Linked DNA regions of Homo sapiens: all the other regions are linked to region 4. Evidence: fine-mapped expression QTL. A gene starts in region 4. Each other region holds a variant in brackets. All regions are shown on one strand. Distances are between the middles of the regions.

Evidence for each region.
Region 1: its variant is fine-mapped to the expression of NRP1 in whole blood (INTERVAL, PIP above 0.99).
Region 2: its variant is fine-mapped to the expression of NRP1 in whole blood (TOPMed, PIP above 0.99). The same link has a PIP of 0.9 or more in blood mononuclear cells, monocytes, monocytes after LPS, monocytes after Pam3CSK4 and monocytes after R848.
Region 3: its variant is fine-mapped to the expression of NRP1 in tibial artery (GTEx, PIP above 0.99).

Annotation. Positions count from the first base shown.
Region 1 is chr10:33,584,720-33,592,308 of GRCh38, reverse strand. It overlaps LINC02628 (long intergenic non-protein coding RNA 2628), which reads left to right. Exons shown (of 4, transcript NR_187516.1): 3 at 1,540-1,687. Among named protein-coding and RNA genes, the nearest start is that of LINC02628, 13 kb to the left of the region's middle. The variant C/A (reference allele first, on the strand shown) is at 2,870.
Region 2 is chr10:33,868,294-33,875,882 of GRCh38, reverse strand. No RefSeq gene overlaps it. Among named protein-coding and RNA genes, the nearest start is that of LINC02629, 32 kb to the left of the region's middle. The variant T/C (reference allele first, on the strand shown) is at 4,167.
Region 3 is chr10:33,506,242-33,513,830 of GRCh38, reverse strand. No RefSeq gene overlaps it. Among named protein-coding and RNA genes, the nearest start is that of LINC02628, 91 kb to the left of the region's middle. The variant A/G (reference allele first, on the strand shown) is at 3,561.
Region 4 is chr10:33,331,094-33,338,682 of GRCh38, reverse strand. NRP1 (neuropilin 1) reads left to right here and starts at 4,016. Exons shown (of 17, transcript NM_003873.7): 1 at 4,016-4,373. The coding sequence starts at 4,301.

The DNA.
Region 1 (7,589 bases), 250 kb before region 4:
TAGCTGGGAAGGTGACCGCATCACCTTTAAACACGGGGCTTGCAACTTAGCTCACACTCGACCAATCAGGTAGTAAAGAGAGCTCACTAAAATGCTAATTAGACAAAAACAGGAGGTAAAGAAATAGCCAATCATCTATTGCCTGAAAGCACAGTGGGAGGGACAATGATTGGGATATAAACCCAGGCATTGGAGCCAGCAACAGCTACCCTCTTTGGGTCCCCTCCCTTTGTATGGGAGCTCTGTTTTCACTCTATTAAATCTTGCAACTGCCCACTCTTCTGGTCCCTGTTTGTTACGGCTTGAACTGAGCTTTCGTTCACCGTCCACCACTGCTGTCTGCCGCCATCGCAGACCTGCCACTGACTTCCATCCCTCTGGATCCAGCAGGGTGTCCGCTGTGCTCCTGATCCAGCGAGGCACACATTGCTGGTCCTGATTGAGCTAAAAGCTTTCCATTGTTCCTGCACTGCTAAGTGCGCAGGTTCGTCCTAATTGAGCTGAACACAGTCACTGGGTTCCACGGTTCTCTTCTGTGACCCACAGCTTCTAATAGAGCTATAACACTCACTGCATGGACCAAGATTCCATTCCTTGGAATCCGTGAGGCCAAGAACCCCAGGTCAGAGATCAGGAGGCTTGCCACCATCTTGGAAACGGCCCACCGCCATTGTGGAAGCGGCCCACCACCATCTTGGGAGCTCCAGGAGCAAGGACCATCTGGTAACACTATGATTTCTAAATGTTGACATCTAGGAAGAAAAACAGAGTACCCATAGTAAAAAGTCCAGCAGGGCAAGCTTGACACATTCTGGGCATGCAGGAGTCTGATGGATGTCTAACTCCTGCACTGGCTGAGTTCTAATGAGGCAGGAACCGTTGGTAGACTTATTGAGTAATAGCATATCCCATCTCTGAGGGCACCTCCCAGGACAGAAGCTCCCACCACTGTCCATAGTGACCATCAGCCCAGCTTTGACAGCTCTAGTCATTAGAAAGTCCCTCCTTTTGTTAAGCTCTGATTAGCTAGCTGTGCCCCCCACCCCTTCTCAAAGCAGACATGAATTTTAAAATGTCTTTGCCCTGGAGCAAAAAGAATTCAGAAATAAATACTGGATTTGTCAAATTGAGATAAAAGGTTGATATGTATTCTCGACTGGCAATAGAAACAAATGTGCCCCATATATTCATGCTCATAAAAACATAGCTTCAGCCAATCTGAGCATTACATCAAGTTGAACCATATGAAATTGCCAATTTTGTTAGTCACACATGATTGACAATTGGCTACTTTTACATGATCCAACCTCCAACATGACAGTTAAGAGCACAGACTTTGGAGTCAGCTCTGCCACTTACCAGCCATGATAGTGGGCAAGTTACTAACTATTCTATCTTCATTTCCTCACCTAATAGGATTTATCTCATAGTATTAATCCTATTCTCACAACGCTTGTAAAAAGTGAATGAGTTAATACAAGTAATGCATTTAAAAGCGTTCTTGGCATATAGAAATAATTATTCATTCTCTTTTCATAGGACTTTGCGGACCCCAATTAAATAGTTTACCCTAGAAGAATAGAACCTATTTGGGGTGGGGTGAGTGGCTGCAAGAGGGACGTTTCCCCAGGACATCATGCACAAAAGGGGCTTCAAATGTAGTCTTTTGACTTATCTCCAAATGAAGGTAAATATACAGTAGATTTATGAATTATTGATTCATAATAAGTTATTAATTATTAACACTTAAATTTATCACAATATTTAGAGACTTGTTTTGGCATATCTTTCTTATTTAATACATTTGAATCTCAAAAAAACATACAACTGGCTCAAGCTTCTCAATCTCTGAAAGGCAGTAGACAATGGAACCGCTCAATGCCATTAACTTCTCTGTATTTCTCCTATTGAAAATACGAAAGGAGAACGAATGGTAAAAGGTAAAGGTAGCCGACTCCTCCCTTGTTAGAGACCTTGACCTCCACAAATAGGTTATTTCTACCTCCAGCTCAATGATCAGTTCAAGATTTTAGGGGTCTGTGGTCATGTGCACCATTGAGTAGTTTCTAGCACTGTCCGTGCCAAGAAAGGCAACCACGAGCTAATTCCCAAAATGTTTGTCAAAAGCCTTATTGAGAGAAGTCATATTTAGCAAAAAATAATTGGAGATCATACAGTATTCCATGTTCTCAGATGCTCTAAAATCTAACCATGGATTATGGCAGCTTGGTAAAGAACTGATGATTTATGTAGAATTGTAATGACTATCCCCAAATAGCTTCACTGAATTATGGACCTGTGTAATGGGTCAGTATGAGAGACAGTCCAGTGAAAGTCTTTGTTGGGTCTACTATGACAATATTGTTGCTGTTTCAAATGATGTCCACTTTATGCACAGAAGAAAATTCTTACTTCATCCTGGAACTGAGAAGTCAATTTTGTAAATTATTAGACTTCTGTTTTCAAGATAGCACTTAGAAACCTGAGAAACAAAAGCACAGTCCATTAAATACAAGTCAATTTTAAATAAAATTATTTAATAACCTTAAGATTATTACTACAAGTTCCATTTTATGTCTCCATCATTATTTTATTTTCTGTTACTTAAAAAAATTAGTCTATTGGTGTATAATATATATACAACAAAATTCACCAATTTGAAGTATAAAATTCAATGAGTTTTGACAAATGCATAAAGTTGGGTAACTACTACCTGTCAGAGCAGGAGCATCACCATTTTGGACAAGCACTGCCATTTTAAGCTTCACCTTGATCAAAAACTGCCTAAATCCAAAGGGCATCAGCCTAATGGCTAAGATCAGCATGACCATAAACCACAAATAACATCCCCTACCAGAGACATGCCAAC[C/A]CTGAGATAACCTCCCTTCCGGCCGGAAAGATGTCAGCCCCAAGATAACCTTCCCTCCACCCAGAGACATTCCAACCCTGTCAAAAACTTCTGCCCAACACAGAAACATTCCAAGCTTGTGATAAGCCCCGTCACCCTAAAACCAATATATACTGTTAGTCTGTAAGAGATAGTGCTCCTGACGGAAATTGGCCAGAAGCCCCTCTCAGGTTTATTCCCCAAAATAAACCTGTCTTTGACTGTTGAGCTGCTTTCTGTGTTCTTTCCTCTTTCTTTAACACCTATACCACCACCCTCATGATATACAGAACATTTCCATCATCCCCCCATTTCCCAGTGCTCATGTGTTGACAGTCTCCTTCCCCCAGCTCCAGGCCCTGGGAACCACTGATCTGCTACTCTAGTTTTGTCCTTTCTAGAATTTCACATCAATAAAATCATATAGTCTTTTGTGTCCGAACTCTTTCAGTTAGAATAATTGTTGTGAGATTTATCTGTGTTGTTGGGTATATTGGTAGTTCATTCCTTTTTATTGCTGAGAAGTAATTCCATTGTGTGACTATGCAGATATGCCAAAATTTAGGTTGATTCTAATTTGGGGCTACTATAAATAAAGCTGCTATGAACATGAATTCACTAGTCTGTGTGAATATATATTTTCCTTTATTTTGGGTAAATGCCTAGGTGTGAGATTGCTGGATTAAATGGCACCTGTATGTTTAACTTTATATGAAACAGCCAAATTGTTTTCCAAAGTGGTTGCACCATTTTGCATTTACTAGCAATACACAAGCATTCCAGTGGCTTCACATCCTTGGCAATACTTGGTATTGTTAGACTTTTTAATTTTAGATATTCTAGTGCATATGTAGTAGGATTTTATTGTGGTTCTAATTAGTATTTCCCAATGGCTATCAATATCAAACATATTTTCATGTTATTTGCCATTCATATATTTTCTTTGGTGAAATATCAGTTCAAAATTTTTGCCCTTCTTTTTTTTTAAAAAAAATGAAATTGGGCTGTGGTCTTCATATTATTGATCCGTAAGAGTTCTTTATCTATTATGCATATATTCTGGATATATGTTTTGCAAATATTTTCTCCCTGCCTGTGAATTTTCTTTTCATTGTCTTCGCAGTGTATTTTCAAAAGCAAAAGTTTTAAATTTCTTTCTTTTTCTTTTTTTTTTTTTTTTCCCAGACAGGGTCTGGCTCTGTCACCCAGGCTGGAGTGCAGTGGTGCAATCTCGGCTCACTGAAAACTCTGCCTCCTGGGCTCAAGTGATCCTTCCACCTCAGCCTCCCAAGTAGCTGGGACTACAGGTGTGTGCCAGCTAATTTTTTTTTTAACTTTTTTTAGAGAGGAGGTTTCACCATGTTGCCCAGGCTGCTCTTAATCTCTTGAGCTCAAGCGATCTGTCCGCCTCAGCCTCCCAAAGTGTTGGTATTACAGGCATGAGCCACTGAGCCCAGCTGCTTAAATTTCAGTTAAGTTTAATTTATCAAAATTTTCCTTCGTGATTTTTATGTTCTTAGAAATCTTTGCCTAACCCAAGGTAACAAGAAAACAAAATTTCCATATCCTCATCTGGAAATTTTATAGTTTTGATTTGTTATTTAGATCTATGATCCATTTTGAGTTAATTTTTGTATGTAGTGTGAGGTAAGAATCAAAGTTCATTTTTTGCACCTCGATATCCAATTGTTCCAGCATCATTTGTTGAAAAGAATCTCTCTCCCTATTGAGTGATCTTTGCACTGTTTTGAAAACCAACAGATCACACTTGTTCAAGCCATGGCCCATGGGCTGCATGCAGCCCAGGATGGCTTTGAATGTAGCCCAATAAAAATTCATAAACATTATGCAATTTTTTTTTTAGCTCATCAGTTATCATTAGAATTAGTGTATTTTATGTGGGACCCAAGACAATTCTGCCACATTCTGCCAGTGTGGCCCAGGGAAGCCAAAAGTTTGGACACCCCTGCGATAGGCCATGTAGACAGGGGTCTATTCCTGGATTCTGTACTGTTAGGCTGATTTCATTAATTTATGTGTACAGTTATGCACTGTATGTCATTTTTGCCAATGACAGACTGCATACTGGATGGTGGTCCCATAAGATTATAATACCATGTTTTTACTATACTTTCTTTTATGTTTAGGTATATGTAGATAAACAAATACTTACCATTGTGTTCCCATTGCCTACAGTATCCAGTACAGTAACATGATGAACAGGTTTGTAGTCTAAGAGCAATAAGCTAGACCTTATAGCCCAGGTATATAAGAGGCTCTACTGTCTAGGTTTGATAAGTGCACTCTATGATGTTCACACATACAAAATCAACAACAAAATCACCTACATATTTCTGAACATATCCTCATCGTTAAGCAATGCATGACCTTATATGTGATTGCTGTAGTCTTGAAATTAGGTTGTCTAAGTCCTTCAGCTTTGTTCCTTTTCTGAATCATTTTAGGTATGCTAGGTCCTTTACTTTTCTGTTTACATTTCAGAATTAGCTTGTCAATTAAAAAAAAAATTTCACATAGGACTTTGATTGAACTTACATTGACTTTCTATGGTAGCCATAAAATTGTGGCTTGCAGAGCTCCCACTATAAGGAGTGCAACCAGTGCCCCAGATGCTATGCTTTGAGATACATTGCTTTATTTTGGCCGGGGCCACACCTTACTTGGTCAAGACTGCTCCCTTGTCAAGGACTGAGCGTGGCAGGGCTACAAAAGCAGATTCATTTCTGGGAGACATTAAACTCCTCTTTTGGCAATGTAAACTCAAGGAATCCCTGCTGGCTTTGTTGAAGCTTCCTTAGACTGCATGACAGTCTAGGACAGTTCCACCCAACATTCTCTCCCTCTCATCTTCACTTAGATTCACACTTGCCTCCTAGCCTGACATCTTTCCCAGCCTTTTCCAGCTCTCACCCTCATTTTCTTTTCAAAAGCATCTTCCTTAATAAAATCCTTGAATATTACTCCTGTCAATGTCAGCTTCTCAGAGGATCTGGGTTAACACAAGTGGTACCAAGAGTGGTTTGAGAAAACAGACAGCAAGGTGGAGTTGTAAAATTAACTCACCTACTTGGCAGGTCAGAAGCACGTGTATGGTCCTGGTAACAAGATGCAGTCCAACTGCTAATATTTCACTGGTAGGGGGGCCTTGAAAATGTTCCTGTCAGGGCAAATGCTGCGATGGGTGTGATGATATCTGCATTTGGAAATATGAGGGAAACTTCTTATAAGTATAGTGCAATTGGGCCAGGTACAGTGGCTCACGCCTGTAATCCCAGCACTTTGGGAGGCCAAGGTGGGTGGATTACAAGGTCAGGAGATCGAGACCATCCTGGCCAACATGGTGAAACCCTGTCCCTACTAAAATACACAAAATTAGCTGGTGTGGTGGTGTGCGCCTGTAATCTCAGCTACTCAGGAGGCTGAGGCAGGGGAATTGCTGGAGCCCGGGAGGTGGAAATTGCAGTGAGCCAAGTTCGCACCACTGTACTCAAGACTGGCAACAGAGCAAGACTCTGTCTCAAAAAAAAAAAAAAAAAAATATATATATATATATATATGTATATAGCACAATTGGCTGGCTAAGGCTAAGTGCATTGACTGCATGTTAGTGGGGAATGAGAGACTGAGAGCCATTATTATGCACTTAATAGCTAAGTGTGGGAAACATAGAGACTGCAGTGGTAATGGTGGTTGCATATAAAGAACTCTTTACCACCTATAGCTGAAGGGCAGGCACAATAAAAGGCAAGCTCAAGACCTAATTATGAGGATCTCAGAGCACCAGAGATATTAAACACTCCTTTAAGCAGGAAATCTGGAGAGATGTCCTTAGTGATGCTGAATCTACAACATTCCCACCCCCATCCTCTGGGCATGGATGGGTGGCCCATCTTTCCCTAGTAAGAGCTAGCACTTTGACCATACTGAAAGATGCTGCAGAATCTTCCTCACCAAAAGACACAGACACAGCCCTTGAGACCTGTCTCTATCTCCATTCCTGCTCCCAGACTGATAGAGTGAAATTCTAAGATAACACATATATAGTCAGCGTGTGCCCTGTAAGGCAAGAAAGAGATCTACACAGAAAGAAATAAGACGTGGTGGGGCATGGTGGCTCATGCCTGTAATTGCAGCAATTTGAGAGGCTGAGGCAGGAGGATCCCTTGAGCTCAGGAGTTTGAGATAATCCTGGGCAACATAGGGAGATCTCATCTCTACTGAAATTCAAAAAAATTAGCTGGGCATGATGGTGCAGCTACTTGGGGGTTGAGGCAGGAGGATCATTTGAGCCTGGGAAGTGTAAGAGTTAAAGAAAGAGGAAAGAAACACAGAATGCAGCTTAACCGTCAAAGACAGGTTTCTTTTAGAGAAAAACCCGAGAGGGGCTTCTGGACAATTTTGGTCAGGAGCGCTTTCTCTTACAGACTAAGAGTATATATTGGTTTTAGGGTGAGGGGCTTATTACAAGCTTGGAATGTTTCTGTGTGGGGAAGATGTTTATGACGGGGTTGGAATGTCTCTGGGTGGAGGGAAGGTTATCTTGGGGCTGACATCTTTCCAGCAGGAAGTGGGTTATCTCAGGGCTGGCATCTTCCCAGCCAGAGGTGAGTTATCTTAGGGCTAGCATGTTTCTGGTTGGGGAGGAGTTTGGAATGCTTCTGGTCAGAGATGTTGTTTGTGG
Region 2 (7,589 bases), 540 kb before region 4:
TTTGTATTTTTAGTAGAGACAGGATTTTGCCATGTTGGCCAGGCTGGTCTCAAACTCCTGACCTCAGGTAATCTGCCCGTCTCGGACTCCCAAAGTGCTGGGATTACAGGCTTGAGCCACCGCGCCTGGCCCCTTGTTTGAACTTTTTAGATTCATAGTGAACAGACAAGCTCAATGATGATTATGATAGTCATATCAGCTGATACTGTTATTGTGTGTTAATAACAACAATAGTAAAATATTTAACATTATTATGACGGCATATAGTAAAATACTTAACATTATTTAATTAACATAATTAAAATATTTAGCAATATGAACATTATTATTATATTAAATAGTAAAATATTTAACATAATTAAACACTGTGGTGCACTGAACATAGACCATCGGCCTTGCACCATACCAATTGCTTCAAAGCTGATGGTAAATGATTTCAAAAAGTTGAAGATCAAAGGATAAGAGAGGACACACGGTAAACGAGAAGTTTCAGAAGATGCAAGACAGGGGGGACTAGACATTGGAAATCTATGTGCCTTCAGGAAGAAATGACGATGAAAAGGCCTTTTAGTATTTCACAGACTCTGGACCCAGGGTAGGCTCAAGAACTGGCCAAAAAGCTATCTCTAAAGGCTGGAAATTCCATTTATGGATTGGTTAGAACCCCTCTTCCCCTTCCTCCCACTCAGTACTATTTTATTTTTTAAATTATGTACAAATATTGATTTGATAGAAACAGACTGTCTAGCACTATACTATGCATTAGGCATTCTTTTAATAACTTTACATAAATTATTGCTTTTAATTCTCACATAATTATTGTATGAGGTATGTGCCTTATTTTCCTCACTGAAGAAATGCTGATTGTTTGAGATGATGGATATGCTAATTACCCTGATCTGATCACTATGCATATATGCATCAAAATATCACTATGTATCTCATAAAGATGTATGATTTTTATGTGTGAATTAAAAAAATAAAGTATAAAAAAGAATGGAGAAGAAGAAAAAAGTTATAAGGCAGATAACTTATAAAACCTCAGACACTGACAAGTTAAAAAACTTGCTCAAGATTACATATCTAATAGGTATCATTAAAGCTAGGGATACAAAGCTAGGAAGTTGACTCCAGAGACTATGTTGTTAATAAATACAGTTTGCTACTTCACATGTCATGTTTATGCAATGGTTAGATGGCTTGAAATTATATGCTTTAGTATATCAGTATTTCATAAAAGCATTTTTCTCATAGATGCAATAAAAGTATTTAATAACAAAAGTTAAAGAACTTAGGAACAGAACTGATGGGAATATAGTTTGTTGTTGTTGTTGTTGTTTGTTCATTTTGTTTGTTTTGAGAGACAGAGTCTCGCACTTGTTGCCCAGACTGGAATGCAATGGCCAGATCTTGGCTCACTGCAACCTCCGCCTCCCGGGTTCAAGCGATTCTCCTGCCTCAGCCTCCCAGCAGCTGGCATTACGGATGCCTGCCATCACGCCCAGCTAATTTTTGTATTTTTAGTAGAGACAGAGTTTTTCTATGTTGGCCAGGCTGGTCTCAAACTCCTGACCTCAGGAGATCTGCCCGCCTCAGCCTCCCAAAGTGCTAGGATTACAGGCATGAGCCACTGTGCCCAGCCGGGAATACAGTTTCAAAGGGGCTAGATATAAGTCAAGTCAAAAATATAGATCACTGCAAATTGGCCCAATATCACTGGACCCAGGGGTAGTAGCTTGGACCTCTACTTAGATCTCATAACTCAAAATGAAGTTCTATGTCACTAAACCACCCATCTGGAGACTAGGCATGACCTGCCAAGCAGGGCACTGAAAATAAGCAGTCTTGTGACTTTGGGATCTGTGCTGCTGGGCCTATCTAGGAAAATAATGTGACTTCTTTGAAGTCAGGAACATGAAATTGCCATAAAAATCATCCTGTGACTTTCCGAATGATTTTAAATAATTAGGAATAAAATAAATGTAAAGTATTATACAGATTCTAAGTGTATCTTAAATGCAGATTCAGAAATAATACCTTGTTGTTCTTTTATATAAACATAAATATTATTTTGGGGATGATGACTCATAAAGTTGAAACGTTTGATTTCGGCCACATTTACTTAATTTGCTTTTAGAGCTGAAACAGAAAAATGGAAGATTCTTGACTTGATGTTGCAGTGCCCAGGTTATCTCTTCAGGATCAAACCTGATTTCATTATTGCATTTTTCGGGCTTGAAGGCTAAGGAATTACTCAGTATAAATTTTTTAATCCCTGGACCCCAAGCAGGCCTAGACTCGCCTCCTGCCTTTGATGACTTCCATTCGTCTTCCTCAACATGATGGAAATTTAACCAACCAGAATCATGTTGTAGAAACCAGATTATAAAAGTTTTTATACTGTTGGTGTCTTTGACTCTATAAAGATTGGCTTTCATGCCCAGTTTGGATTTGGCATTGGACTAGGAAGGACTGAACTCTAGATCCAGAGAAATCCTCCTGACTTCTCAACCACAAATTCATGTCAACTGAAATCTTAGAAGTGGCCACAGTCTGGTTTTGATACCTGCCAACATTTTCTTCAAGCAAGCCCTTAACCATGTTCATAACTCCCTTTCAAAACTACCCAGTCCTTGTAAGTCAATGAGACTAAATAACATCAGCTGCTGGCTTCAAGTCATTTCTCTGATGGTTGTATTAATATTTCTGTGTTCCCACCTCCTTTCCTGGGAAGCATCAACTCGCATGACTGGAGCTATTAGTTCCACCCAAGATTTTAGTCTAAGGCAAGCTATAGTCAGATGATGTGGAAGACAGATGTTTCTGAATCCGTATTCACAAGCTTCAGACTATATCAAACACCGAAGGAAAGACTTATTATTCTACCTCACTTACACATTCAGAATTTGGGTTCAGTTAAAGAGCGAGACACAGACAAGCCACCTGCCCATGGATAACAGAATACTCTGGCTTCCTTATCTCCCCTGCATTTCTCTGCTTCTGTTTATTGCTCCATTTTTCTTTCCGTCTCCTGGGAAGAATAGCTCAAGATGGTGATACTCTTATTTTGTTAAGTTTTCTCTGTTTTAGCAGAGCTCAGTTAAGGAGCTCAGCTCTTAGGTTTTTTATTTTAAATTGCTTTACCTTTGATCTGAATCTTGGCTTTATTTAACAGATTTAAACTACAACATTAGAATAATAACTCAATTCATATGGGAGGATTTTTTTGCCTCTAAAACAAGAATCCAATGGAAAGACACTGCTGTACACTCCCTAGTATGATTTGTTGTATGAAAGCTCTCTTTCGCCAACATTAATGTCTGCATTTCAAAATGACCTTTATTAGGTGTTTTCAAGCTGTGAGTCCTCTTTCCAACCTATTAGCCTAGCTTTAAGAGAAAATACTTTTGAGTAGGGGAAACCAAAGCTCCCAGACTCTCCATCTTTTGATTTGGGGTTCAAATAGTTAGGATTGAATCCAAAGTAGAAAACAAAGTTTTAGCTTAGCCATTCTTTCTTCTTTCTTTCTTTCTTTTCTTTTTTTGAAATGGAGTTTTGCTCTTGTTGCCCAGGCTGGAGTGCAGTGGTGTGATCTCAGCTCACTGCAACCTCCGCCTCCTGGGTTCAAGCTATTCTCCTGCCTCAGCCTCCCGGAGTAGCTGGGATTATAGGTGCCCACCACCATGCCCGGCTAATTTTTTGTATTTTTAGTAGAGATGGGGTTTCACCATGTTGGCCAGGCTGGTCTCGAATTCCTCACCTTGGGTGCTGGGATTACAGGTGTAAGCCACTGCACCCAGCCAAGCTTAGCCATTCTTTAATTACTTTCCCCCTCACCCTTAGAAACCCCAGAAATAGAGCTACAAGAAGCTGTGTAAGGATTGGAGTGACCTGTTGGCCAATATCTGTAGTTACATTTAACTTGACATTCTCCGGGCTGGGTGATTCTTTCAATAAAAGTCCCTGTTTGAAAACCTGGTGGAAGAAGGGGATGTCTTTAATTTGTCCCCCAGCACAGTTTATTTTATATGTGGTTACTGGTAAAGGTATTAACTGTTGTTATCAAGGAGTTGGTTTTCTCTTGCTTATCTACTTCCTCTGCTTCAGGAAACCTCACTTCTTATTAGTGAAAGTGTACTCACTTAAACAGAGGCTTGGGGAGAAAT[T/C]TGTGGTTTTCAAAGATCTATCTCTTGACCTTACTGCTAAATGTTTTTACTAAATCTTCCTACTGACATCTCTTCCTGATTTCCAGTTTCACTAGTCAAGCTAGCATCAGTGCACCTTAGGGGGAGGGGTGGGGCTGCCTGGAACATGAAGATGAAAGATTACCTTTCCTCTGTTATGTATCCCTTCTTTATTGTTGCACCCAGTCCACTCAGATTCTTACATTACAACATTAGGACTCCCTAATGAAGCCAGGAAGGAGATTTGTAATCTGAGGATATGGTCATATGACAGGGTGGACAGTGTGCATACCATCCTACCATGTGTCTCAGGGGCATGGGTCCAGCCCCATCATCAGAGGGAGAGGGCGCAAACAAACCATGATAGTGGTTGACAAGCAAATGCGGCTAAAATGAGCATCAAAAGCAGTGTTGGTGGAGAAAGAAGTAATACAAGGCAGCCTGCCAGAGGGGTGGTCGAAAGGGCTTAGGGCTGCATCCTTTCTCCTTTCATGAATTTGTGTACGTTTCTGCTAATTCAAGTGAAAGAGCAAGGGTATACCAGCTGGTTGTAAACAACATGTATATTTCCACCTCATCAACATGTATATTTCCACCTCATTTGCTTTCCCCATGGGAAGGCATATAGAGAAAGGGGAAGGGGGCAAGGTGGTAAATAATAGAACAAGAGCGAAGGAACTGATTCTTGGTTTTTATTTTATTTTATTTTATTTTATTTTAATTTTATATTTTATTTAATTTTTGAGACAGGGTCTCCCTCCCAGGCTGGAGTGCAGTGGTGTGATCACGGCTCACTCTAGCCTCCACCTCCTGGGCTCAAGCGATCCTCCCACCTCTGTCTTCCAAAGTGCTGGGATTATAAGCATGAGCCACCATGCCAGTCCCCCTGACTGTTTAAAACCCCTGGAGAAGGACTTGGTTCTGGTGTGGCTCCCCTGTATTCTCACGGCTATCTCCACAGCCCCCATGATAGCAGTTCCTTCCAGCTGCCATCTCCCATTCATCCAACAACATTGTCCTTAGAGGAAGGCCAAGCTCCTCTCCACTGTGCACAGGCCCTCATGACGTGGCTGCCCTTCTCTCCACAGCTGACTGTCCCCACACTGTTCTCTCAGGCACAGTCACATCCAACTGTCCTCCAGTTCTTCCTCACCTCCAGGCTTGTCCTCACCTCCAGGCTCCTATACATCCTTGATATTTCTTCTCCTCCCACAGCCCAGATCAGACCACCACTTCTGTTTTGCCTGGGGAAACTCATAAATGTGCAGTCCTCTCTTAGAGATTCTAATTTCAAAAGATCCAGAGAGAGATCCTGGAATATGTAGTTTCAAAGGCTTCCCTGGAAATTCTGAAAAAGCAGCTGAGCTTAGGAAAGATGTGTAGATATCCCTTCTCTGAGAACCTACCTTGGTCTGCCCCTCCCTCCAAGTCTGAGTTAAGTTCCCCTCCAAACTGCACTACACAAGTCTTTAATTGCAGGTCTCCTGAGTAGATATCCACTCCCGGAGAACAGAGACTCTGTCTGGCTTAGAAGTGGTTCGGGAAATATTCATTGAGTTACATTGAATTGAAACTGGTGAATGTTTCCTATCTTTTTCTCCCTCTCCTGCTCTAAAACAAGAACAAATTTTCTTTTGGCTAGTTCTTATTTGCTTTTAGAAGAACAGGATTTAAAACAAATAAGACACTAGAAAAATGACAAAGCTGTTCCTCCAAAATTCTTACGGAAATGGGTAATGTTGGTCTTTAGTTGGTGCTCAAATGTGAATGATACCAGGACCACACTTTCTTAAACTTTTGTGGGTTCTTCGGTAAATATTTACTGCAGTGAAATCTCTGCTTCTCATTTTAACCATCTTTTATATCAAGATGTGAAAGGCATCATGTTTTCTCAGTAAGAGGACTCACATGCTTGGTTTGTTTCCCTGTCTTCCCCCAGTGGTTTTTTTTTTTCTTTTCTTTTCTCTCTGTCTCTTACACACAAACACAATTTTCCGATAGATTCTGTTAGGACCAAGAAACAATAGCTGATCATTGTGGGATCCTCAGACCTGTGAGATGATGTAATCTTCCTTTGCTCCTACCTGTCCTGTACTTGGCACAGCCTTGCTTCTAGAAGTTTCCTCTAGTAAATTCATTTCATGGATGCTGAGAGAACCATCGCCTGTTATTGACTCTTGCTTCTCAGTAAGTATAAAAGAAACAACTTTATACTATTAGCTGTTATTTTTGTTGATGCAGATGCTATTATCTGATTTAAACATCGAAGGGATGATTTTATTTTGTTTGTGCCCTGGAGGCTAAAAAAAAAAAGAAAAAAACCCACAATAAGCCAGCATCATTTTGAAAAGGAAAGCATCCAATAATTAAATATACTTTCCCAGAGATGAGGAGCAGATGTTCTGTCTCTTTCATGGAGTGGGAGGGTGTGGAGACTTGAGGGAGCTGTACCCGGAGCACGTTTCATAGTCTTGAAAAGTCAGGGGGTTCAGGAAACTCCCTTAACATGGGAGGTCTGGTTGGGATAAACTAACAGCAACCCAAAAGGGAATTTACCACATTTTTGGCAATTGTATCATTTTAAATATTTTCTCCAAACTCCCAAGATGTAAAAGATCGTTATCACCACAAATTAATAGTTTTTGAAATTGGAGGACAAAAATCTTTTTTTCTTGGCTAAGACAATTTTACTAAGCAAATCCTTACAGCAATTTCTGAAACAGCCTACAATGCATAAGAAAAGTCAGGCCGGATGAAAAGCAAAGCGAAGTTTGGAGGAAAAATCATTCACAATGGTAGATAGAAAGAAGGAAAATTCTTTTTTATTCTATTTCATGTGAAGTGATTCTAAGACCATTAGAATTGCCTGAGAAGTCTTTTCAAACTCTCCTCCTGGTCATCCCTCTCCATCTTTTCACCCTCCTTCCCATACTCTACCAAAAGACCTGAGCTTCCAAGAGTGGGCAGATGTTATCTGAAAAGACTCCTTTTTGATTCCATTATGCTCTCTCCACCCCATCCAGACACTCCCTTTCTCAATTTTAGAACTAGTGCTATAAAATAGAAACTCTTTTTTTTTTTTTTTTAAGAGATGAGGTCTTGCTCTGTTACCCAGGCTGGAGTGCAGTGGTGCAATCATAGCTCACTGCAGCCTCAAACTTCTGGGCTCAAGCAATCCTCCTGCCTCAGCCTCCTGAATAGCTGGGACTACAGGTGCATGCTACTACACCCAGTTAGTTTTTAAATTGCGTATAGTTAGGGGTCTCACTATGTTGTACAGTCTAGTCTCAAACTCCTGGGCTCAAGCGATCCTCCTCCCTTGGTTTCCTTGGGATTACAGGCATGAGCAACCATGCCCACCCAAATATAAGCTTTTGAAGGAAGCACAGCTTCTTATGGCTCTTT
Region 3 (7,589 bases), 180 kb before region 4:
AACCCTTCAAAAAATCAATGAATCCAGGAGCTGGTTTTTTGAAAGGATCAACAAAATTGATAGACCGCTAGCAAGACTAATAAAGAAAAAAAGAGAGAAGAATCAAATAGACACAATAAAAAATGATAAAGGGGATATCACCACTGATCCCACAGAAATACAAACTACCATCAGAGAATACTACAAACACCTCTACGCAAATAAACTAGAAAATCTAGAAGAAATGGATACATTCCTCGACACATACACTCTCCCAAGACTAAACCAGGAAGAAGTTGAATCTCTGAATAGACCAATAACAGGCTCTGAAATTGTGGCAATAATCAATAGTTTACCAACCAAAAAGAGTCCAGGACCAGATGGATTCACAGCCGAATTCTACCAGAGGTACAAGGAGGAACTGGTACCATTCCTTCTGAAACTATTCCAATCAATAGAAAAAGAGGGAATCCTCCCTAACTCATTTTATGAGGCCAGCATCATTCTGATACCAAAGCCGGGCAGAGACACAACCAAAAAAGAGAATTTTAGACCAATATCCTTGATGAACATTGATGCAAAAATCCTCAATAAAATACTGGCAAACCGAATCCAGCAGCACATCAAAAAGCTTATCCACCATGATCAAGTGGGCTTCATCCCTGGGATGCAAGGCTGGTTCAATATATGCAAATCAATAAATGTAATCCAGCATATAAACAGAGCCAAAGACAAAAACCACATGATTATCTCAATAGATGCAGAAAAAGCCTTTGACAAAATTCAACAACCCTTCATGCTAAAAACTCTCAATAAATTAGGTATTGATGGGACGTATTTCAAAATAATAAGAGCTATCTATGACAAACCCACAGCCAATATCATACTGAATGGGCAAAAACTGGAAGCATTCCCTTTGAAAACTGGCACAAGACAGGGATGCCCTCTCTCACCACTCCTATTCAACATAGTGTTGGAAGTTCTGGCCAGGGCAATCAGGCAGGAGAAGGAAATAAAGGGTATTCAATTAGGAAAAGAGGAAGTCAAATTGTCCCTGTTTGCAGACGACATGACTGTTTATCTAGAAAACCCCATCGTCTCAGCCCAAAATCTCCTTAAGCTGATAAGCAACTTCAGCAAAGTCTCAGGATACAAAATCAATGTACAAAAATCACAAGCATTCTTATACACCAACAACAGACAAACAGAGAGCCAAATCATGGGTGAACTCCCATTCACAATTGCTTCAAAGAGAATAAAATACCTAGGAATCCAACTTACAAGGGATGTGAAGGACCTCTTCAAGGAGAACTACAAACCACTGCTCAAGGAAATAAAAGAGGACACAAACAAATGGAAGAACATTCCATGCTCATGGGTAGGAAGAATCAATATCGTGAAAATGGCCATACTGCCCAAGGTAATTTACAGATTCAATGCCATCCCCATCAAGCTACCAATGACTTTCTTCACAGAATTGGAAAAAACTACTTTAAAGTTCATACGGAACCAAAAAAGAGCCCGCATCGCCACGTCAATCCTAAGCCAAAAGAACAAAGCTGGAGGCATCACACTACCTGACTTCAAACTATACTACAAGGCTACAGTAACCAAAACAGTATGGTACTGGTACCAAAACAGAGATATAGATCAATGGAACAGAACAGAGCCCTCAGAAATAATGCCGCATATCTACAACTATCTGATCTTTGACAAACCTGAGAAAAACAAGCAATGGGGAAAGGATTCCCTATTTAATAAATGGTGCTGGGAAAACTGGCTAGCCATATGTAGAAAGCTGAAACTGGATCCCTTCCTTACACCTTATACAAAAATCAATTCAAGATGGATTAAAGATTTATACGTTAGACCTAAAACCATAAAAACCCTAGAAGAAAACCTAGGCATTACCATTCAGGACATAGGCGTGGGCAAGGACTTCATGTCCAAAACACCAAAAGCAATGGCAACAAAAGCCAAAATTGACAAATGGGATCTAATTAAACTAAAGAGCTTCTGCACAGCAAAAGAAACTACCATCAGAGTGAACAGGCAACCTACAACATGGGAGAAAATTTTTGCAACCTACTCATCTGACAAAGGGCTAATATCCAGAATCTACAATGAACTCAAACAAATTTACAAGAAAAAAACAAACAACCCCATCAAAAAGTGGGCGAAGGACGTGAACAGACACTTCTCAAAAGAAGACATTTATGCAGCCAAAAAACACATGAAGAAATGCTCATCATCACTGGCCATCAGAGAAATGCAAATCAAAACCACTATGAGATATCATCTCACACTAGTTAGCATGGCAATCATTAAAAAGTCAGGAAACAACAGGTGCTGGAGAGGATGTGGAGAAATAGGAACACTTTTACACTGTTGGTGGGACTGTCAACTAGTTCAACCATTGTGGAAGTCAGTGTGGCGATTCCTCAGGGATCTAGAACTAGAAATACCATTTGACCCAGCCATCCCATTACTGGGTATATACCCAAAGGACTATAAATCATGCTGCTATAAAGACACATGCACACGTATGTTTATTGCGGCACTATTCACAATAGCAAAGACTTGGAACCAACCCAAATGTCCAACAATGATAGACTGGATTAAGAAAATGTGGCACATATACACCATGGAATACTATGCAGCCATAAAAAATGATGAGTTCATATCCTTTGTAGGGACATGGATGAAATTGGAAACCATCATTCTCAGTAAACTATCGCAAGAACAAAAAACCAAACACCGCATATTCTCACTCATAGGTGGGAATTGAACAATGAGATCACATGGACACAGGAAGGGGAATATCACACTCTGGGGACTGTGGTGGGGTCGGGGGAGGGGGGAGGGATAGCATTGGGAGATATACCTAATGCTAGATGACACATTAGTGGGTGCAGCGCACCAGCATGGCACATGTATACATATGTAACTAACCTGCACAATGTGCACATGTACCCTAAAACTTAGAGTATAATAAAAAAAATAAAAATAAAAATAAAAAATAAAAAAAATAAAAAGAAGGAAAAAGAAAAAAGAAAAAAAAAAAAAAAAAAAAAGATGCCCTGTGGGTGGATCACCTAAGGACAGGTGTTCGAGACCAGCCTGGCCAACATAGTGAAACCCTGTCTCCACTAAAAATACAAAAATTAGCCAGACATGGTGGCGAGCATCTGTAATCCCAGCTTCTTGGGAGGCTGAGGCAGGAGAATAGCTTGAACCTGGGAGGTGGAGGTTGCAGTGAGCCGAGATCACCCCATTGCACTCCTGCCTGGGAGTGCAACAGAGTGAGACTTGGTCTGAAAAAAATAAAAAATAAATAAATTTTAAAAGATGCCCTGAAGAAGGATCGGGGGTTCAGTTTATCCAAGAGAGCACTAACTTTTGGGACTAATTTTCCAAAAGCCAAAAGCCAAAAGCCTTCTTGGCAAAATCTCAGCGCTACCTCTTATAACCCTGCCAAACAGTCTTAGTGCTTTATTTTCTGTCTAGGGACCATCTATACTTTTTACCTAAAATGGAAGTGTATTTGTTCAGCAAACATTTGCTGCACACTTACTCTGTAT[A/G]GAGTTTTAGAGGAAAACAAGGAAACAGAAGAAATCACATCTTTAAAAGGCTCACAGTTTAATTCAGAGACTTGCAGCCGTACCTTAGAGTTAGGCTAAGAGGGTTCACAGTGACCTTGGTTCCTGCTACTCATCTTCCCTTCCTAGTTATTTCTCTTTGCATCCCTCCTTTGCTAAAGTCTGGAGCTCTCTTGCTGCTCTCTGTCCATCTAAAGTAGCCTTTTGCATTCATTTACATAGACACATCTTTTGATGTTCCATGCTCCAAAACGAACTCTCGTGTTTTTTTCCATATCCCTAATAAGGACTCCCATGCTACAGAGTCTGACCCTAAATGTCTAAAGAAAACAGTCTTACGTGGGGATAAGGTGAACAAGATTAATAGGCTTAATTCTCCCCTTTCCCACCTCTCACTTAGGGAGGATTTATGTTTTAAATAACCTTTACACATGTAAATTAATTAGTCTGAAACAGTGTCATTGGTGGGATGTGTGAGCAGGGTGCTTGAGTGTCGCTTTCTGTTCTGATCGTGTGCTGACCTCCATGCTAAACTCTGAAATCACACATCAGTATGGACTCATTGAATAGTTACATAGAAGGGCCTATCTAGAAACAAACAAATGAAAATTACGTGGAGTATACATGGCTTCATAACATTTGAGGGCAAGCAAAATACAGAGAAACAAATCAAGGAAAAGGTTTGTTGAGACAGACTCCCTGGGGTAGGAATGTTTTCATGTGGGTTTTCAAGGGGGTGACGTCATATGCAAACCCGATCCCACTTTTTCTCCTTTCTTAGAAGTTCTGAAAGAGAGATGAGAGTGCAGATATAGATGAGGATAGTCTGTCTAAGGATAATACCAAAGGTAAGTGTGCTTTGAGGTTTAAAATATTTGCTGGAAGCTATTTACTGACTGGTTACTAGGAGACAGCATGACTCATTGCTAACTTCCCCTCCGGGGCCAGCGTTCAGTCATTTATCACCTAGCACATTGGATCAAGACTGATAGAATCTTTAGAAAAAATTATGGAGTTCTCTATTCTAGTAAGGAGGCACTAAACTGTGGAAATAAAATGATCCCTGAAGATGAGGTCCACTGAGAAAGCATCCCGACATGTGTTCTGTATGTACTAACAGTCCAAGGATTAATGTGTGGTGGAGAGATATATACAAGATAAAATACAAACAACGTACATATTAAACAACTGTACAAAGCAATATTAAACCAACGTCAATAGTGAATACTGTATCTTCCCTGAGGACTTCCCCCCCGACCCCCACCCCAGTTTCTGAATGAATATATTTACATTATAACTCGGTATTCCTAATTTCCATGAAACAACACACTTAAATATTCCTTTAATAATCTTTCTAAAGATTCAAATAAGTAGAATAGATGAGGGTAGATTCCAAACAATCAGGTCTTTCAAGATAATTCATAAATTTAAATATAAATTCTAAGATAAATTTGGAAAATATTGAGGGTTGAATTGACATATGGGAAAAAATTAGTCAAATCATTTATACATTGCCCACAACCACAGGGGCATCACTATAATGTAAAGTTTATTGGAAAATTTTTTTTAGATAGAATCTCACTGTGTCACCTGGGCTAGAGCACAGTGGCATGATCACAGCTCACTGCACCCTCAACTTCCCAAGCTCAAGCCATCCTCCCACCTCAGCCTCCTGGGTAGCTGGGACTACAGGCATGCACTCCATGCCCAGCTAATTATTATTACTATTATTTGTAAAGATGGGGTCTTACAATGTTGCCCAGGCTGGTCTTGATTCCTGGACTCAAGTGATCCTCCTACCTCAGCTTCCCAAAGTGGTGGGATTACAAGTGTGAGCCACTGTGCCCAGCCTCATTGGGAATTTTTACAAAGAAATGTCTTGACATATTTCCATAACAACAACATCAGAATTGTCAGAGACAAAGCCTAGATAATATAAACTTCATCTGATAGGAGAAGGAAAGTATTTAAACATCAAAAGAATGGGAAATGATGTTTGTGCAGTTATGTTTGTGAGTGTGAGAGTGAGTAAGCGTGCAGCATATTGTAAAAATAAGCGAAAGGTGATGTGGCAAGAGTGTGTTTTGAAATATTTATTGAAGCTTTCACTCTGTGTTTTGCCTTGACCTTCGCCTGTTCAAAGAGGTATCAAGGTCCGTGCTGTGGTAGGGTTCCCTACTGTAAAAGCTGTCAAAATTCTGAGTCCATTGAGAAGATCGGTGGCTTAAGAAAGAGTGCAAAGTGCAGCTCTCTCACGGGGAGAGAAGAGAGAGTAAAAGACAGAGAAGGAGGGAGGGAGGAAAGAAGAGGAGATTGCATTTTCTCAGAGCAATTAAGATTTCCCTAGTCCAGGCCAGACACAGTGGCTCACGCCTGTAATCCCAGAAATTTGGGAGGCCAAGGCAGGTGAATCACCTCAGGTCAGTAGTTCAAGACTAGCCTGGCCAACATGGTGAATCCCCGTCACTATTAAAAATACAAAAGTTAGCCAGGCGTGGTGGCGCATGCCTGTACTCCCAGCTACTCTGGAGGCTCAGCTACTCTGGAGGCTCAGGTAGGAGGATCACTTGAACTTGGGAGGTGGAGGTTGCAGTGAGTCGAGATTGCGCCACTGCACTCCAGCCTGGGCAACAGAATGAGACTGTCTCAAAAAAAAAAAAAAAAGAAAAAAAAATTCCCTAGTCCAAGAGTATGAGGATCTGCTCCTGCTCCCTGAGGCCATGGCGGGACCTCAGGGAAGGTGAGTGTGTGATACACCTGGGGAAGTGCCCCAAGACTCTTGGTCCCAAGCTTGGTACAGAAGCCCACAGAACAGAGATTATCACGTGGCCAGGGACAATGTGCCTCTCAACAGGCATCAAACAGAGGGGCCTAGTCTATCCAATATCTTGACATGTCAGGCAGATCCCCAAGCCCTGCTCAAATCTGCTGAAGATGGTGATAGAGAAACCTCAAGAATGGTCAAGCTTTTATTTCCTCCAGCCCAGTGGGAAAAGGGCTTAGAGAGGATATTACATTGATTTATGGAAAATAAAGCATCTGAGTTTATAGACTAAGATTTATACCTGCTACAAAAGTATGAATCCTTTTATCCTATACATATATATACACATATATACTAGAGGGCACATGCTACTGAGACATATTGCTTGGGTTCAGATTTTGCAACACTAACTAGCTGCGTGTGATTTTAGGAAGTTTCTTAACCTCACTGGCCTCAGTTTCTGTGAAACTGAAATTAATCATAGCACCAATTTCACATGGTTGTTGTAAGAATGAGATGAGATCATCTGTATCTTTGGCACAGAACAAAGGCTGAACAATGATAAGCTATCATAATAATTATTATTATTATTTATTTTTCTTCCATAAATGTCCCAGTCACTACCTAAATGTGAAGGAGAGATCTAGTCCTAAAAAAAGGTTTCCATTGACAGCTCAAGTTATTCGTGGATTTTCTTTCATGATAGCCTTAAGAAATAAACAAATAGACAAAAGTCTCTGTTTTTCTTTGGCCCCTAGGTGACCACTAAATTACATGTGAAACAAAACATGTTCAAGAGAAATGTCCCTGGAAGAAAGGAATTTTTCCTAAATCTTAAATAGCAAGTTTCTTGAATCCTAAATAAGGGTAGTGTCACGCCTCTGCCAAGTAGGAATGTCAGTATGGGGGTAGGAAGTCCAGCTGTATCCTCCCATCAAATGGAAATTAGTTGGATTCCTGATGCTAAGGGTTCCCATGGGCTCTTCATATGACAGATAAGAGGACGAGGGGGGTGAAGAATTATTATTTATAAATAACACACCAGAGTGCCTGAGGTTGGCCAACCTTAAATTCAATGTTCAAAGTTTGGAGCAGGTGTCTACAAACTTTTATCCCTAAGCCACACTAAGAGGACTATTTATGAAATACATCTGTATCCTTGGATGGCTATGACAATTGGTAATGGTCATTGGGGTATTATACGAAATATGTTTGGTCTTTGTTCCCAGTTCCTGACATGGGGTTCC
Region 4 (7,589 bases):
TCTATTGATTTGAAGAGTGTTTCTGTTGGTTATAATTATTTTAATTTTCCCAATTTAAAAGTAATCCAATGAAGGCAAAATCATTTAATATTATTATCTCAGAAAAATAATACAGTTTTCAAATATGGCTGTAACCTCTACTCTAGCAAATGTTTTGAATCTAGTGTGATTCAAAATTTAGCATTATCTTTCTTCATCTTGTTGGTTAGTAAATATACTGTATCACAAAAACTTCACATTGTAACTTTGTGTTAACGTTTTAGTTGGTAGTCGTTTCTCCAATATTTGAGGAATTTTCAAGGTAACTTTTAAAAGGCTAAAAAGGTAGAATCAGAAAGTGAAGATTCATTTGTTTATTTCCTTCCTTCTCTGTCAGTACAAATCAAGGAGATGGCCAAAAATGAGGCCCAGATGACACCTCTTGCATGACACAGTCACTTGACAGAATAACCACTAATAGGCTTATTTTAAACATTAGTTAATTAAAATTCCAACTTTTAATGTTTTTCCAGTTTCACTTCATCTATTCATACATCTCAAAACTAGGTTAGCTCCTACTAAAAATATGGAGCTTGTATTGCTTTTCTGAAATTTATGGGTTTGATGTTTTCAAAAAACTTGACTAGATATGATGCAGTTTGAACTACCAACCCGAATCTCCATATTGCATGAATCTGAAGTACTTTGAGGGAGTTAGTGGCTCAAATGGCCTTCTGGGAGCAATCGATTTCATCTATTTCTGACAAAGGGATGAGAGCTTGATGAAAGGAATCGAGCAGTTACCATCCAGTCTACTCTTACTGATGGGCCACGGTTCCAATCCGACTCAGGGAGCCCCAGCTGAAGGCCTTATTTCTGCAGCACCTCCTAAGTGGGAGTCCAGGAAACTGGGCTTTGCCCACTCACAGCCTCTGCAGGGCGTTCTGGGGGTGCGGTAGAGGACTCTTCCCTTCCCTGGAACTGGGTCCTACCAAGTCCAGGGATTTGTTCTATCAGGAAGAATAATGTGTTCAAGAGACCAAAATAAAATCAACCCGGGAACACTGCCAAATTCTTCCTCTGCCTATCACTTATTCTCGTATAGAGCCGGCCTGTCTCCACGCTGGGGAATTGCAAAAATCTAAAACTGACCCCTCTCACCACTTAGTGGAATCCAACAGCAAAGGAAAAAGGTTGTTAGCAAGGACAATTTGCTCTGTACCAACCCACTGGCCGGCAATTCTCAATCAGTGCGGTAGGGCTCCATTACCCAGCACTGTGAGTGGAAACTAAGGAGTCTAGAAAAACCTTAGATCAGCTAAGAGCAGAGAAATCAGAGGCAGAACTTAAATATGACATTTCCTTCTGAGTCCATAGTGCATCCCTTATTCACTGGTTGGAGAAAGCTGGCAAAAGCGCTCAGCTGGAGGCAGGCGTTTTCTGTGCGTTGAGGCGCCGGAGGAGCCATTCCCTTCGGGAAAGACAAGGTCGGGGTGGGGGCAGTCGCTCCGGAGTGCACGATCCGGTGGCTTTATTTGCTGGCCTGGCGGGTCTAGGCTGGAAAATGCACACTCAGCAGGGAAAGGGGAAGAGAGATTGGCGGCAGTTTTCTAAAAACAACACAGCTCAAGTCTCCCTCGTGTGCCCCCTCGCTCACCCCGCCGAGGCTCAGAGCTATCCAAACGGGCGCTCCGGAGCGAGCGCGGAGGTCGGGTCCCCCCAGGACGCAGGCGGGCCTCCGAGACTCCAGGCCGCCCCGGCCGCCGCTCCCTCCCGGTTCCCCTTCCCTGTCAACCTGCCAGGTCCTGAGAGGCGCCTCTCCCTCCGAGCCTGGACCGAGGTCGCTCCGGGTCACCCTAAATCTGATGATGCCGCTCGCCCGGCGCAGCCGGGGGCTGGGACTGGCGGGGCTGCACCTGGGGAGGCGGCGACCGCGCGCGGGTAGTAGCCGAGAGCCCAGGCTGCCTCTGCGGCGCTCACTCCCCCGGGGTCTGCGCTGGGCGCGGTCGGCGCCCCCGCCTCGCCTCCCGCCTGCCCGCCTGCCCGGGCGCAGGGCTGCCCATGGCTTCGACAGTGCTCCTTCCGCTCAACTTAGGCATTTAACTCCCAGCCCTTCGGTGCCCACTTCCCACCCCGCGCCTCCCAGGGGTCCGACAGCTGAGAAGAAGGAGGAAACTGGCAGAGGAAAGAGGCGCTCGGGGGGGCCGAGTTTCCAACTTGGCGACTGGGAATCCCGAGGCGCGTGGGGAGGAGAAGACAGGCTTGACCCGGGGCAAGAGAGTGGCGAGTGCGGGCTCCGTGGGTGCACCTCCCACTGGCCCGGGAACGGCCTGCACCCCGAGGGGCGCACGTCACTGCTCCCAGCCCGAGTCGCGAGCGCGCAGTCCTGGCCTGGGGCCCGCGCGCCTTGGGCTTTCTCCCTGCCCGCCCCTTTTTCTTCCGCCAAAACCTTTGACCAGAGTCTCCTTGCCAGCATTCCTACCTCCCTTTGGCCAGCTATTTGTGCCAGGTAGGAATCAGGCTGTACTTTGGCTGTGTGTGTAGACGCCAATCCCCAGGAGGCGTGTGACCTTTTCACCTTACCCACAAACTCCCTGGGAGGTGCCCCGTGGGCACTGACCCTTCTCCGGGGCCTGATCGGTGACCGCAACCTGTTTCTTCCCAGAAATGTCCTTGCTTTTCGCATCTACAAACGCTTCCTGCAGCACTTCTCGGAAAACCCTCGGGGACGGGCCTGGGGGGCATCCAGCGGGCTGGGGGCACGAGCCGCTGTGGGAAGTGGGGGTGGCAGGAGCTCCAGGGCCGGCGTGCACGTTGTCTGTGGCCGGGAGCGGACACTGAGAGGGCGCAGCGAAGAGCACCCCTCCCCCGCCACTCTTTCCCTCCCTCGGGATGCACAGAGAAACGGGGGCCGCCCGACCCCTGATTTCCACACCCCTCCCTAGCACCTGGGCTCCCAGACAAGGTTGGGCGGGGTCGGGCGGCGATTGCCCCCCTGCTTGGAAGGCGCAGCACCTCCCACCCTCCGGTGTTCCCTCTGCCCCAGAGGAACGGGCACCAAATCTCGGGAAACAATGAAGCCTCCGCGGCGCGCAGAGGGCACCCAGCCGCGCGCCCTGATGCGGGCCAGGGAGGCCGCGTGGGGCTGCAGCCCGGCCTCGCCCGCCCAGGCGGTCTGTCTTCGCTTCACACCACAGCGACACTGCTGCCCCTCGCCCGGCTTCGCGGTGCGGCTCCCACTCCAGCCCGGCTTTCCCCTCCTCGCCCTCCAGCTCTGGGCAGGGGCGTCCAGGGGTGCCCCGCTGCTCCCCGCCACAGGTCTCAGGATGGCGCGATGAGGAGTGGCAGGGGGTGACCCTGCGTTCCTCGCCGCCGAGGGCGCGGGCCCCGGGATTTGAAGTTGCGAGAAGCAGCCGCCACCTCCCGGGCGCTCCGCACTGCGCGGCGGCGGGATCTGCGCCTGCAGGAGCTGCCCAGCTCTCCCTCTAGGGGTGCAGAGCGAGCACGCGAGGTGGGCTGGCCAGACCCTGCGGCTGGCACTGACCTCCGCGCCCCTTCCTCCGACGCCCGCACCCACGCGACCGGGGCGCAGACTCCCAGCGCCTTCCTTCCCGCGGAGATCCCTGCAGGGTCTCTGGGAAAGACAGACAGACGGACGGGGAGAGCACTCGGAGGGAAAGTTGTTCCTCCCAGTCTCCTGTCAGGCAATTACAGGCGAGCCCAAGCGGGGAGAGGGGCGGGAGGAAGCGAGGGAAGGGCTCCGGAGTGGGGGGAGGCCGCAGGAGGGGAGGCGGGGGTGCAGTTGGTGAAACTCCTCTGTCTCCCGCTCATCTTTTCATTGCTCGTTCCCCTCCTTCCCGCAGACACCCGGACCTCCCCTGGGCGCCAGCTCCGCGGCTCCAACGGGTCCAGAAACAAGCCGGATTTTTTTTTTTTCTTCCTGGAAATTGGCTTTGGTGTGTGTTGCCCTACCTCCCTCCTCCCCCTCCCACCCACAGCCCCCCCCCGGCCTTTTTTTTTTTTTTTTTTTTTTTTGAGACATGGCCCGGGCAGTGGCTCCTGGAAGAGGAACAAGTGTGGGAAAAGGGAGAGGAAGCCGGAGCTAAATGACAGGATGCAGGCGACTTGAGACACAAAAAGAGAAGCGTTCCTCTCGGATCCAGGCATTGCCTCGCTGCTTTCTTTTCTCCAAGACGGGCTGAGGATTGTACAGCTCTAGGCGGAGTTGGGGCTCTTCGGATCGCTTAGATTCTCCTCTTTGCTGCATTTCCCCCCACGTCCTCGTTCTCCCGCGTCTGCCTGCGGACCCGGAGAAGGGAGAATGGAGAGGGGGCTGCCGCTCCTCTGCGCCGTGCTCGCCCTCGTCCTCGCCCCGGCCGGCGCTTTTCGCAACGGTAAGTGACAGGCAGAGGCGCGGGTGACAGCGGCGCCCCGGCTCCCAGCTGCCCGCCCCGGACCGGGGCTCAGGCGGGGCTTCCCGGGATCAGCCGGGAACAACCGACTCCCGGGCGAAGGAAACTTTTATCTGGGAGGAGAGAAGAAGAAATGAGATCAGGCGGTTTAGAGCAGGAGGATTTCAGGTCTTTGGGCTCCCTCCTGACGTTGATCCTTGGGCTGTGGGGCTTTTCCTTACCTCTGTTACAAGACAGAGCTGTCTACCTTCCCAGATCAGCATGCCAATTATCTTAATAATGTTTCCTCCCAAAGGCAATTAGAAGAGACTCCCTTTCAAAAATCTGATGGCTGTTGAAAGTTAATGAACACTTTACCAGGAGATCTTACTTCCTGGTTCCTTTGCTGCTCCCCTAAGCCGTTTCCTCTGGTGGGTGACGGCCAGAGATATCGGTTTGTGGGTTGATGAAACTCCCTCCCCCGCCTTTGTACACCTTCCGTAATCTGTCTGGAGTATGACTGAAAGTTACATAGTATCAATACAGGAATCTGACATATACAGTGTAAGGCACCAGGATATCTGAAAATCCCTAAGCTAGTTGCAGCTTCCACTTAGCTTTTAAAATCACTCACTGTTAAGTAAATGAAAAACTATACTGGGGTCTAAACAGTACCATGTAACCTAAATAATGTGTTTTAAAATGGGATCTGGTTGTAGGCATGTTTGACTTCACACTGTAAAGTAAGTGCAGGCAAGGGTATGCAATTATCTTTACAGTAAGTCGTCAGCAATTGTTATTAACTAATGATCAAATATTTACTTTTGTCTGGCTTAGATTTCAATCACAGTAATTAGAAGAAAAGAACATCCACTACTTACTGTGGTATATTGTTTTAATAAGAGACCGCAAGTGGAGGGCCTCATACCAACAGGAATTTAAATCACATCTTTATGATGGAAGTTAATCTCTCTAATATGCTTTTTCAAGGTTTTGTGATTTTAGCAATGGATTTCCCTCAGCAGCTACCAAGCAGTATTTTAAGAGATGCTTAAAGCAAAACACATGCAAAAAAAAAAATTATGAACATGGAATTCAGCTTATTAATGAGCCCAAGTTGATGGCATTTTTCTATAATCTGGCAGGAAAGCAAGACACAAAAAATTATGAATGTAGAATTCAATTTATTAATGAACCTGAGCTGGTAGCATCTTTCTATACTCTGGCAGGGAATGAAATAGCATTCTCGTCCAACTGAAAGAGCTCAAATGGTTGGACTAGAAATTATAGTAACCCTGTCCTCCACAACTCTTGAGACTAAATCCATAGTGGGGGTGTTCACAAGATAGATTTGAAGCTCAATGCAAAGAGCTATCAGACTTTAGGTTGTGAACTACACAAATATATATGCAGTACACACACACACACACACACTTCTTAGTTTTCTTAGCAGAAATCTGGGGAATGCTGAAAATCTGGCTTTAGTTGTTGAGCTTTACCAGCAAAAGCCATGTCGCTATGCTTGAAGTGACCAGAGCCAGAAAATGCCTCTGTAACTCAGCAGACCTCTCAAAGCCATGTCCACCTCCTCTGAGTAACCAGTGTCTGCTAAATTAATTCATTAACCTTATTTAGGACTAATGGTCCAGAGTCATTAGAAACTGCTCTTTCTTAATCAACTGCTAGAGAGATTGAACAGAGCCAGGGAGTCTAGCAGTCCACATTATCTTATTACACTGTCACTTTCTCAGAAGTCACAGATTAAAGAGCTCTGGTGTGGTACCAAGTCCACCTAAATGTCTTCTGAAGTGACTCTGTCGAGTGACTAGAACCAGTGCTGTTTTATTTCACTCCTGTAACAGATGCCAGACACTACCATGATGTTTGTCCAGAGCTAGAGGAAACTTAATGAGACGAGGTCACTTTCCAAGTTTTCTGCACATTCAAAATAATGCAAGAGTCTCAGCAGAATCACATAACAGAGTCCAACATGATCATTAGCTGAGATTTTGAACTCCAGTTGCAACATCATTTCTTCCTGGCAAAGCTTACACTTTTACAAGCCAGTGCAAAGGAAACCAGCATAAGACTACCCCCAGTCTAAGGAACAAAGTCAGAAGCACCTAGCGATTGAGAAAAACAATATAACTTATATTGTCTTCTTTTTTTAATTTATGGGAAATGATTTCTGTAATGCATGTAGCTTTATGCATTTTTGATGTGCACTTCATCTTTCATTTCCATTTGACCTGGTTTTCCTGTAATAAAATTCTGTAGATTTATAAATTCATGCTGAGAGCAAAGAATGCCATTCTCTTTCCACAGGGAATCTATTAGATGCAGTGTTAAAATCTACATCTACCATTACTGAAAATTTGTGATTGATAGGCTTATATATTTCACTGTTTTCATACCGTTTCTCTTATATAGTTTATGCACCGAATTTTTATTGCTCAAAATTAAGCATCAATAAATGTGGCAGCATTTCAGGCTGAGGTGCTCCAGTATGAAATCCATCATAAAATGTGACAATGAGAATCTATGCTGAACAATATAGGCAGCCCAGAGACTGGTTTACTTGGTTTATTTGGCTTCACTTGAGCATTTTTGAAATGAAGGCTCAAAACTACTTAGCTCACCTTTCCCAGAATGTGAGAATGTGGGTTACCATATGTGATACCCAGACCTGTGTGGTGGGTTATTTTTCACCCAACATTTAGGTAATTAGAATTAATGCCATGTGGCTATTTACTTTTCCTTCTGCCCCGTTGCTTTGATCCGATCTCCAAGCTTGAACAACTTTACTTGGAGAAGTAAAGCAGAATTATTTCTGCTTCACCAAATATACTTTGTTCTCTGTTGATTTGGATCTCAAGAGCAGAGATAACTCAAAATCACTTAGATTTATGGGCAGATAAAACAACAACAACAAAAGGTTTGGCTTTAAGCCAATCAAAGACAATCCCCACTGATCAATGACATAGACCAGGCTTATCATCAAAAAACAACACAAGGGGTCGAACAGCATCTTTCAGTCACTTTCCACTTAGAACTTGCTACTTAATGTGATTACACTTCTTGGGGGATAATTAAGTCTAGCAGAAGCTCCCAGGGGACCATGTTAACATCAATTGAGGGGATTTAATGTTTTTAATGCTAGAAGACCTTTTCCTTAGGAAGAAACTTCGGGGCTGGGGGGAAGAGTCCTCTCAGATCTCA